3 linked regions of the Homo sapiens genome follow. The protein of the gene in region 3 interacts with the protein of the main gene of each other region in a pairwise test. Each region holds a gene or a part of one and is shown on either strand. Other genes may lie near its edges.

The links.
Region 1: the proteins of GOT2 (region 3) and THOC7 interact in a two-hybrid assay, tested with the Homo sapiens proteins (one large-scale study listed by BioGRID and IntAct).
Region 2: the proteins of GOT2 (region 3) and GLRX interact in a two-hybrid assay, tested with the Homo sapiens proteins (one large-scale study listed by BioGRID and IntAct).

The regions. Positions count from the first base shown.
Region 1 is NC_000003.12:63,853,751-63,857,406, forward strand, and holds part of THOC7 (THO complex subunit 7), read right to left. Parts: intron 1-3,656. UniProt on the Homo sapiens protein: Component of the THO subcomplex of the TREX complex which is thought to couple mRNA transcription, processing and nuclear export, and which specifically associates with spliced mRNA and not with unspliced pre-mRNA.
Region 2 is NC_000005.10:95,813,216-95,816,560, reverse strand, and holds the end of GLRX (glutaredoxin-1), read left to right. Parts: coding exon 1-48; 3' UTR 49-54; exon of another isoform or gene 55-65; intron 66-1,603; exon of another isoform or gene 1,604-2,171; 3' UTR 2,172-2,712; downstream 2,713-3,345. UniProt on the Homo sapiens protein: Has a glutathione-disulfide oxidoreductase activity in the presence of NADPH and glutathione reductase. Reduces low molecular weight disulfides and proteins.
Region 3 is NC_000016.10:58,713,752-58,717,407, reverse strand, and holds part of GOT2 (aspartate aminotransferase, mitochondrial isoform 1 precursor), read left to right. Parts: intron 1-594; coding exon 595-745; intron 746-1,228; coding exon 1,229-1,394; intron 1,395-3,656. UniProt on the Homo sapiens protein: Catalyzes the irreversible transamination of the L-tryptophan metabolite L-kynurenine to form kynurenic acid (KA). As a member of the malate-aspartate shuttle, it has a key role in the intracellular NAD(H) redox balance.

The sequences.
Region 1 (3,656 bases), on a different chromosome or scaffold from region 3:
ACAAAAAATTAGCCGGGCATAGTGGCGGGCGCCTGTAGTCCCAGCTATTCGGGAAGCTGAGGCAGGAGAATGGCGTGAACCCGGGAGGTGGAGCTTGCAGTGAGCCAAGGTCGCGCCACTGCACTCCAGGCTGGGTGACAAAGCGAGACTCCGTCTCAAAAAAAAAAAAAAAAAATTTAATCCACAACTTGTATCATCCTATAAAAGTCAGAGTAAATGTTGAAGATTTATCTATAGATATATCTATGTAGATACATATTAGGCATTTATGCATATCAAGTTTTGCCCAGTTAGGATTCCTTACAAATTTGCTTCTGTCTCAAATTTACTGGGAAGGTCATGGCGTTTCTAGCTGAAATTGTGCACAGAGAGTTGCTGCCTAGAAAACTCTGTGGACAAGAATTATTGAAATAACATGTATAAAGTACAGAGCACAGCTCCAACAGAAACAGAATAAAACAAAAAGGTAAGCTCTCAGTTTGAGAATAGCCTCTGTTCTTTTTAAATTTAAAGATGGACTGCTGCTGATAGTTCCTAACACAAATGCCATGAGCATTATTATTTTTAATGACATCTTATCAATTAGCTCCATAATGAACACACTTAAAATATGTTTTGTTTACTATACATGTTGACTTCACAAATTATCATGCTTGAAACCCTCTGTAAGCAGTTTGAATGCTTATATTAGTAATTCTGCTGGGCTTTGGTCTATCCTGTAAAAACAGTAAAGATGGCTTAGCAGATTTTTTGTTATTTTTTTTATGTTATCAACATCACTCCTTGTCATAATTACTTTCTTTACTATGAGGATGAACATCATCTGGAAAGAGTTTCTAAACCAAAATACTTGACACCTGCTGTGAGGATGGTGGTTTTCCACCTGGCTTTAGGCTTGTAGGACAATGGCTGGATAATACCATCCATCTAGCTCCTGGAAAGACTGTGGAGTGTGAATCTGAGTCAAGAAAAGGAGGGCCGGGCGCGGTGGCTCACGCCTGTAATCCCAGCACTTTGTGAGGCCGAGGCGGGCGGATCACGAGGTCAGGAGATCGAGACCATCCCGGCTAAAACGCTGAAACCCCGTCTCTACTAAAAATACAAAAAATTAGCCGGGCGTAGTGGCGGGCGCCTGTAGTCCCAGCTACTTGGGAGGCTGAGGCAGGAGAATGGCGTGAACCCGGGAGGCGGAGCTTGCAGTGAGCCGAGATCCCGCCACTGCACTCCAGCCTGGGCGACAGAGCGAGACTCCGTCTCAAAAAAAAAAAAAAGAAAGAAAAGGAGGCAGCAATTAACTTCACGTATTAATTAGTGAGTAATATGACCACACATTGTCTAGAGTATACTGTCTATGAGGCAGGGGCATGAGATACATATTTGCTCATCAAAATGCCTCATATCCAATATGCCTAAATGTTAACCACTGAAAACATAAAAAAACAGGATTGGTTTAACAGTAGACTATTATCACAATTCTAGAACTTATGACTTCCTACTGGATTTCGTTATACCATAATTGCACATACAAAATATCTTTCAAAATCAGTTTAAAATCAGTAATGACACATTTATGCTGAAATGTAAATATTTACTTGCAAAATGGGATACATATATGCCAACATATAGCCAGAAGAAATATAAAATTATTCAAGACACCAAATAAGCCTCAAAAAGTCCTTAGATCTTAAAACTCTATGTTTCATAAACATAGAGGCAGGAAGAAATGACTCCTTTACAGTTACTAGAGCAACTCTAGATTTCTAGGCCTCTGGTCAGATGACACAGCCATTTTAGCTGTGCTCTCATTTTAGCATAAAAGGGAGTTTCTCATAAACCCAGACTAACGTTTTCAAAATTCATAATTGTTCTTTCCCTATATTTGCCATTAAAACCTTGATTACAAAACAACTTCAGAGACAGGTCAAGGCTTGACAACCAGAGGCAATAGCATCATTGTTATGTAACTCCTTGCTAAGGCTAAATTGCAGGTCAAATGTGGTTCCCTTTGAGGGAAGGCTGCAATCTCACCTGCCTTTGTGAACTAGTAATCCTGTGATCTACCAGTGAGGATTAGCATTTCCTTTCTAAATGCAGTTTGGCAAAAAATTTGGTAGGTACCAAACTGAAAGCCACAGGAAGGGATAACAATTTCAGACAGGATTATAGTGGGGAAAACAGCTAGCTACTAAGGCATTACAGCAAGATATACCAAAATTAAAGACACATATACCTTTTGACTTATCTTTTAGAAATTATTCCCACAAGTACGCGAATATATCTATGCAAATATCTCCATTGTAACACTGTTTGGAAGAGTAAAAAACTGAAAACAAACTAAATGCCAATAGAGGATCTGTCTAAAAAATTAATAGACTATACACACTGATATAAAAGAATAAGGTAGATTTATATTCAAAAGAGCTCCATGATAAGCTAAAAATTGAAACAACTGAACTCATGGAGGTAGAAAATAGAGATGGTTACGAGAGGCTGGGAAGAGCTGTGGGGTGTGTGGTGGCAGGGGAGGGGCGGGGATGCTTAATTAGTACAAAAACATAGAGTGAATAGGATCTAGTATTTGATAGCACAATAGGATGATTATAGTCAACAATAATTTATTGCACATTTTATACCAACTAAAAGAGCATAACTAGAATGTTTATAACAAATGATAAATGCTTGAAGACAATGGATATCCTATCTACCCTGCTGTGATTATTTTGCATTGTATGCATGTATCAAAATATCTCATGTACCCCATAAATATACGCACCTACTATATCACTTAAAAAAAATTTTATGGGTACACAGAAGTTGAATACAGACCAGTGTGTAAATGACTGTATAAAATTTTCAAGCATATATACCCACTGGTATACTAGCCAGCAGATACGTAACACTTAAATATGCTAAGGACTGCTTTAGATGCTTTTCACATATAAACACACTTAATCTACACAACAGCATTATAGATTTTTTTTTTTTTTAGACAGAGTCTTGCACTGTTGCCCAGGCTGGAGTGCGTGGCGCTATCTCGGCTCACTGCAAGCTCCGCCTCCCAGGTTCATGCCACTCTACTGCCTCAGCCTCCCAAGTAGCTGGGACTACAGGCGCCCGCTACCACGCCCAGCTAATTCTTTTGTATTTTTAGTAGAGACGGGGTTTCACCGTGTTAGCCAGGATGGTCTTGAACGCCTGACCTCGTGACCTACCCGCCTCGGCCTCCCCAAGTGCTGGGATTACAGGCGTGAGCCACCTTGCCCGGCCTCATTATAGATATTCTTATCCCTATTTTACCAATGAAAAAGCATCTTGCCAAAAATTAAATGTCACAGGAAGTAAGGAATAGAAATGGAACTCAAACTCAGGAGTCAGGCTCCAGAGAAGATACTTTTACCTTTTAGAGGCATTAAAAATCATTCTGGGAGAGGAATTATTACGGAAGGTAAAGAGGGGAAGGTTTTCATTTTTCATATTGTGCATTTCTTCTTGAATTTACTGACATGTAGTACTTTTTTTATGAAGTAGTAACAGTGGTTAACTGGGTGGTAAACTTATTTATCATTCTCAGGTACTTCATTTTCTCTGTATTAAAAATTCTACTCCGTTACTGAATAAAGCTATGATATGTTAACAACAACAAAGAAAACTGGCTT
Region 2 (3,345 bases), on a different chromosome or scaffold from region 3:
AGTGGGGAACTGCTGACGCGGCTAAAGCAGATTGGAGCTCTGCAGTAACCACAGGTGAGTGGCAGGTGAGGTGCTGGGCCAGGAACATGGGAGACCGTGGAATTCTTCTGTCGTGGTTTGTTATACTGTATGACAGCATTCTGGTTGGGGGAAGAAATGATTTGGGGTGAGTTGAGGAATGGTGATGTCAATCACTTATGAATTTCACACTTTACAAAGAGATCGTGTCAATGAGAGAAATCCTTTCACTCAAGCTTCATTTAAGAAATATTTATTAAGCATGTGCCAGACACATGAGAATATAATGATGCATAAAATGATAACCTGGAACTTATATTTTAGAGAGGTAGACAGATCAAAAACAAGCAAATCCTGAAATAGAATAGAATAATGTGACAGAATATGTCATGGGGTGGGGAGAAAATTGAGCTAACATGGTAAGGGAGGGCCTTTCTCAGGAAGGGTTGAGCTGAGACCTGGTTAACAAGGGGACTGCTATGCAGAGATGAAGCAGAAGAGCTTTTCAGGCAGAGGGAATAGCAAGTGCAAAGGCTCTGAGGTGGCAACAGGTAAGGGATGTTCGTGGAACAGAAAGAAAGCAGGAATAGAGTGAATGAAGTGCAGTGAAAAGGAAGAATAGCGAGAAAGGTGGGCAGGGGCCAGAGCACCCAGGCCATGGTAAACAATTTGGATTTATTCAAAACGCAATGTGAAACACAGGTCATTTTGGCTTTACCTGTGTTCACTTGGCAAATCAACTCTATTTAATTGGCTTCCCAAAAGCCAAAACAAAGTTTTCTAAAATCAGTAACCTAAAGGAGATCTTTGGCTCTGTGGAAAACCACAGGGCGATGAACATTTCAGAAGGGAACCGTGATGGTTTTGGAGTCTGAGCTCCTCCCTCCCCCAGTTCCCCAGCACAGCTAGCGCTAGCTAGCTCCCAAGCAGGCCAATTCAGAGACCTGTACCCAGAGAGATGTAAATGCTGCTTTAGTTGAGGGAGAAATGAATGGTTCTTTAACCAAAATGTTCTTGGAGGGGTATCTATTGCCTGCTAATTAATAACTCATTTCTTGGGCAATGAGTATACATTATTTGTGATGGTTACTCAGCATAGCAACAGAAGGGGGAAAAAGGTCTGAAAAAATACCACTGATTTCTCTGAAATGAAATAGTCAATGCTATAAATCTTCTAATCAGAATTCTACGATATCATCACAGCAGGTGCACCCTATGTCTGTCTGAGTTCACTTCCTGGCCTTACCACTGGTACTAAAAGCACTCAAACCCAATTAATGGTTTCCTATTCTGGGACATGTTTAGCAATTTAGGCTTAGATTAAGAATGAGAGAAGATGGGAAATGTTATTTCTCCAACTGCTTCTATTTTGGTGTGGGCATTAGAGTCCCCCATATTCAGAAAGTCTCCTTATTTGCATTTGGCCTTTTCCTTCAGTGTTCTATGCTGTCAGTATTTTACTGGCAGCTGCATCTCAAGGCCATCTGCAACAGAGTGTGTTTAAATGGCAGGTGTAAGTGTTCTGGTAATGAGAGAAAGGAAGGATTTTGCCTTACAAGGAGATCCCTTCTTTCTTTCCTGGCAGAACAGGCCCCATGCTGACGTCCCTCCTCAAGAGCTGGATGGCATTGCAAATGATGACAGCACTTCTGGTGGATGAATTTGGGGGCACAAACAGCTTTTTTCCTCTTTTGGCTCAGTATTTAAAAGTGGACCAACTTGCTCTTAATCACAGGGCCAAGAAGGTTGACGGGCCATCTTGGTTTTCTTCTGGATGTGCTCTTTGGTTTTCAGAAGACTGTGACAAGTTCTGGCCCAGGATTCGCTCACTGACCCTCAATTGTCCTCTTTGGCATGCGTTTCTTACTGTTCTCCATGTGTCGGCATGTCTCTACCTCTAAGCCAGTGTTTTTCAACTATGTTTATCCAGACTCCTTCTCCACAATGATGAATCCACAGTTGGTTATCTGCTACTGCCCATTAGCTAAAATCATTTTGCTGCTTGACTTTATGGAGTTTGTATTATGAAATCAGTGGGTATTTTGAATGTGTTCTTTCTAACTACATGCATCTCTCCACTCAACTCCACCCCATCCCATCCCACCTTGAAAATCACTGCTCTGAACCAGTGTTCTCCACCTTGTCCTCCACAGATCTCATAGGAAATGTTCAACAATTCTGTGAAAGGTCACAGGACCCAATTGGAGAAATCATATGAAAAGCATAGTTGGTCTTGGTGTCATATGGATCAGAGGCACAAGTGCAGAGGCTGTGGTCATGCGGAACACTCTGTTATTTAAGATGGCTATCCAGATAATCCTGAACACTGTGTATTTATTTTATTTAGACTACCAGCAAAGATTAAAGCATGAAATGTAAAACATCTGATAAAACTTACAGCCCCCTACACCAAGAGTGTATCTGTGAAAGAGCTCCTACACTTTGAAAACTTAAGAATCCCTTATCATGAAGTTTGCCTGTTCTAGAATTGTAAGATTGTTAATTTCCTTCAATCTCTAGTGACAACACTTAATTTCTTTTCTAATAAAAAAAACCTATAGATGATTCAGTGATTTTTGTCCAATTCATTTGCATGTTCTCAAGACATTAAGGAATGTTATGCGAAATACACTAACTTAAAACTGTGTTTATATTTGGCCCTGCCATTATAAATAAAGACACGTGCTGCTGTCACTCACTGAGTACAAATGGCTGATATAATTTTGAAATTTCATATTGAAATAAATGCCAGCCCTGGCTTACTGAATAATGCTTAGGGTTTAATAACAGTCTTTTTCATTTCATATTCCTTTTTGCCATTTCCCACTTAAGGCCCTTGTACTTCTCGCTTCTTTCTTTTGTGGGCCCTAACCACTCCCTTCAACCAGGATTGCTATGATAATTGTTCAGTTTACACCAGGATTGCTATGGATAATTGTTCAGTTTACACACTGCACAATATGAAAGCCCTCCCACCGGAGGTTATAGTATCTGATCCACTCTGGACCACTTGCCTGCACTTTCACACTTCTTTGTCCATGTTCATTGTGTTTCTTTCTCCTGAGATGCCTTTTCTTCTTTGTTTTACTTTGAAACTCCTCCTCGTTCAAGGCCTGATTTACAGATCATTTCCCCTATATTTTCTCTCTCCTCTCATGGCCTTTTGACTGAAAAATCATCGTTCCCTCTTCTGGAATTCAAAAACACTGTGCATGTAGATACTCTACAGCTCTTATCAGGCTATGTTGTAGTTAATCATCTGTATTGGTCTCCTGCCAAATTCAGAAGTACCCAAAGGTGACTGGGCGCGGCAGGTCACACCTGTAA
Region 3 (3,656 bases):
CTTTTCTCTCTCTCTCTTTTTTTTTCTTTTGAGACAGAGTCTCACTCTGTCGCCTTAAGCCAGAACGCAGTGGCACAGTCACAGCTCACAGCAGCCTCTACCTCCAGGGCTCAAACAATCCTCCTACCTCAGCCCCTGAGTAGCTGGGACTACAGACATGTGTGCCACACCTGCCTGGCTAATTCTTCCTATTTTTCACAGAGACAGCATCTCACTTTGTTGCCCAGGCTGATCTCAAACTCCTGGGCTCAAGTGATCCTCCCACCTTGGCCTCCCAAAGTGCTGGGATTATAGACATGGGCCACCATGCCTGGCCAGTTTCCCTTTCTTTAACTTCTGTCAAATCTAAGCTGCAAACAGAATGAGACAGAAACAGCATTTGGAGAGCACTTTCAAGATAAAATGGTTCTAATGATGTTGTCTCGTGAGTCCTGGGTATAAGTTGAGTCTTCCAGGATTACGTTAGCCCCAGAAAAGGCTTATTGTGCTTATTGGGACCATGCCCACCTCACATAAACATCTTTCAGACTTTTATAAACATCTGGGGCCTCTTCAGAAAGACTGCTAAAGCTTCGATCTTTCGTTCCTTCTCAGAAAAGGAATCTCTTTGCGTTCTTTGACATGGCCTACCAAGGCTTTGCCAGTGGTGATGGTGATAAGGATGCCTGGGCTGTGCGCCACTTCATCGAACAGGGCATTAATGTTTGCCTCTGCCAATCATATGCCAAGAACATGGGCTTATATGGTAAGCTACAGCATCCAGCATGACACATGCTCTCATGCTGGGAGAGAATGCCACGAGGGCATAGAGCTTGTGGGTGTGTGTGTGTGTGTGTGTGTGTGTGTGTCCATCCATGTCCATGTCCCTCCCTACCCTAAGATGAAAGACCAGTATCGTAGATTTTACTGATTTTCTTAGCCATATATTCTTCGGTGTCCTTAAGTTTTTCCAGCAAAGGAAACTGATTACTGCTTCTCTAAACAAAAAGTAACAAATCCGTGAGCCAAGAAGATAGATACAATAAAAAATACCTTTGAATACTCTGAGTACTCAAAACTTCCTTGTGCCTCAGTTCACCACTCTGGTTGTTGAAAGCTTTTTATTTATAATAAAGTTATTTTGGGGTCCTTTGGATGGAAACAGATAATACGTAGCAAATACACTCATGATTTGCTTTAGCACATTAGATAGTAGAAGTAGAAGACGAGATCCATTTTTGTCTTTCAGGTGAGCGTGTAGGAGCCTTCACTATGGTCTGCAAAGATGCGGATGAAGCCAAAAGGGTAGAGTCACAGTTGAAGATCTTGATCCGTCCCATGTATTCCAACCCTCCCCTCAATGGGGCCCGGATTGCTGCTGCCATTCTGAACACCCCAGATTTGCGAAAACAATGGTAAAGGTTTATGCCACTCCCCAGCCACCTACCTGTTCCCACCACTGCTCCTTCAAAGTTAGTTTTTAATTGACCTCTAGTGATATACAGTACCCCATAGATTCCATATGTGGAAGGCAGGGAAGGAAGCAAAAAATGTGCATTCCTTTTTTAAAAAATTAAGGCCGGGCACAGTGGCTCACGCCTGTAATCGCAGCACTTTGGGAGGCCGAGGCAGGTGGATCACCTGAGGTCGGGAGTTCGAGACCAGCCTGACCAACATGGAGAAACCCCGTCTCTACTGAAAATACAAAATTAGCCGGATGTGGTGGTGCATGCCTGTAATCCCAGCTACTCGGGAGGATGAGGCAGGAGAATTACTTGAACCTGGGAGGCGAAGGCTGCAGTGAGCCGAGATTGCGCCATTGCACTCCAGCCTGGGCAACAAGAGCAAAACTCCGTCTCAATCTATATATATAGATAGATAGATAGATTGGTTGAGACAGGGTCTTGCTCTGTCACCCAGTCTGGAGTGCAGTGTTGCAATCCTAACTCACTGTAACTTTGTACTCCTGGCCTCAAGCAGTCCTCCAGCCTCAGCCTCCCGAGTATTTGTTAGCACTTTGAACCAAGTTAATTGATATTTCTCTGTAAGAGGCAGTCATAATTTTTAAATGGTAGTTCCTTTTATTCCGTCATCTCCGTGTTAAGTAGAACCTGCTTTCCCCTAAAATCAGTTTCAAATTAAGTACCTTACATAGGAAAACTTCCTTAAAAACATCATATTTTTGTTTGTGTCCTAATAATTGCTAGCATTGAATCCGTATTTTTGCATATGTTTGTATTTTATTGTAGAGACAGGGTCTTGCTGTCTTGCCCAGGCTGGTCTCCTCAAACTCCTGGGCTCAAATGATCCTCCCACCACAGACTCCCTAAGTGCTGGGATTGCAGGTGTGAGCCACTGCACTCAGCTTGTTTTTTATTATCTGTACTATCTGACTCTCAACATCTGTTCTCTGAATTAGTGTTACTAAATTTTTTTGACCACAATCCACATAAGAAATATATTTAAGTCTGGGCACAGTGGCTCACACCTGTAATCCCAACACTTTGGGAGGCTGAGGTGGAAAGATCGTTTGAGACAAGCCTGGGCAACATACTGAAACCCCATCTATAAAATTTTAAAAATATATATTTTACATCATGACCTTGAACATATTATATACTTATATGTGTATATAACTGAAACTGTCTTCCAGACTCAATACTAAAGGCTTCATGTGCTTTACTCGAGTTTTTTGTTTTGTTTTGTTTTTTGTTTTTTTTTAAACAGTCTTGCTGTGTCACCCAGGCTAGAGTGCAGTGGCACAATCACTGCAACCTCCACCTCCTAGGCTCTAGCAATTCTCGTGCCTCAGCCTCCCGAGTAGCTGGGATCACAGGTGTGCACAACGAGACCCAGCTAATTTTTTTTTTTTTTTTTGAGACGGAGTCTCGCTCTGTCGCCCAGGCTGGAGTGCAGTGGCGGGATCTCGGCTCACTGCAAGCTCCGCCTCCCGGGTTCACGCCATTCTCCTGCCTCAGCCTCCCAAGTACCTGGGACTACAGGCGCCCGCCACTACGCCCGGCTAATTTTTTGTATTTTTAGTAGAGACGGGGTTTCGCCATGTTGGCCAGGCTGTTCTCAAACTCCTGGCATCAAGTGAACCACCTGCCTCGGCCTCCCAAAGTGCTAGGATTACAGGCGTGAGCCACCAAGCCCAGCCTCCACTCCAATATTTTCTAAATGCCAACTGCATCTTACTAAGTTGAATTTAACATACTAAGCCAGGTAAGGTGGCTCACACCTATAATCCCAGCATGCATTTTGGGAGGCCAAGGCAGGTGGATCCCTTGAACCCAGGAGTTGGAGACCAGCCTGGGCAACATAGCAAGACTGTGTCTCTATTAAAATAAAAGAAAATAAAAAAATAAAAAATAAAAAAATTAACCTACCAATGGGTCATGACACATAATTTAGAAAACACTGCTGTAGAAAGGGGTTGGCAAACTGTTCTGAGAGTCAATCCAGTTTGCCCCCTATTCTTGTAAATAAAGTTTTATTGGAACACAGCTGTACCCATTTGTTTATGAATTTTGTATAGCTACTTCTTTGCTGCCATGGCCGAGTGAGCAGTTGTAGAAGGCAGAGACCATATGGCCTATAAAGCCTAAAATAATTACTGTTTGGCCATTTACAGAAAGAATGCCAACCCCTACTCTATGAGTTCATAAAACCATGAT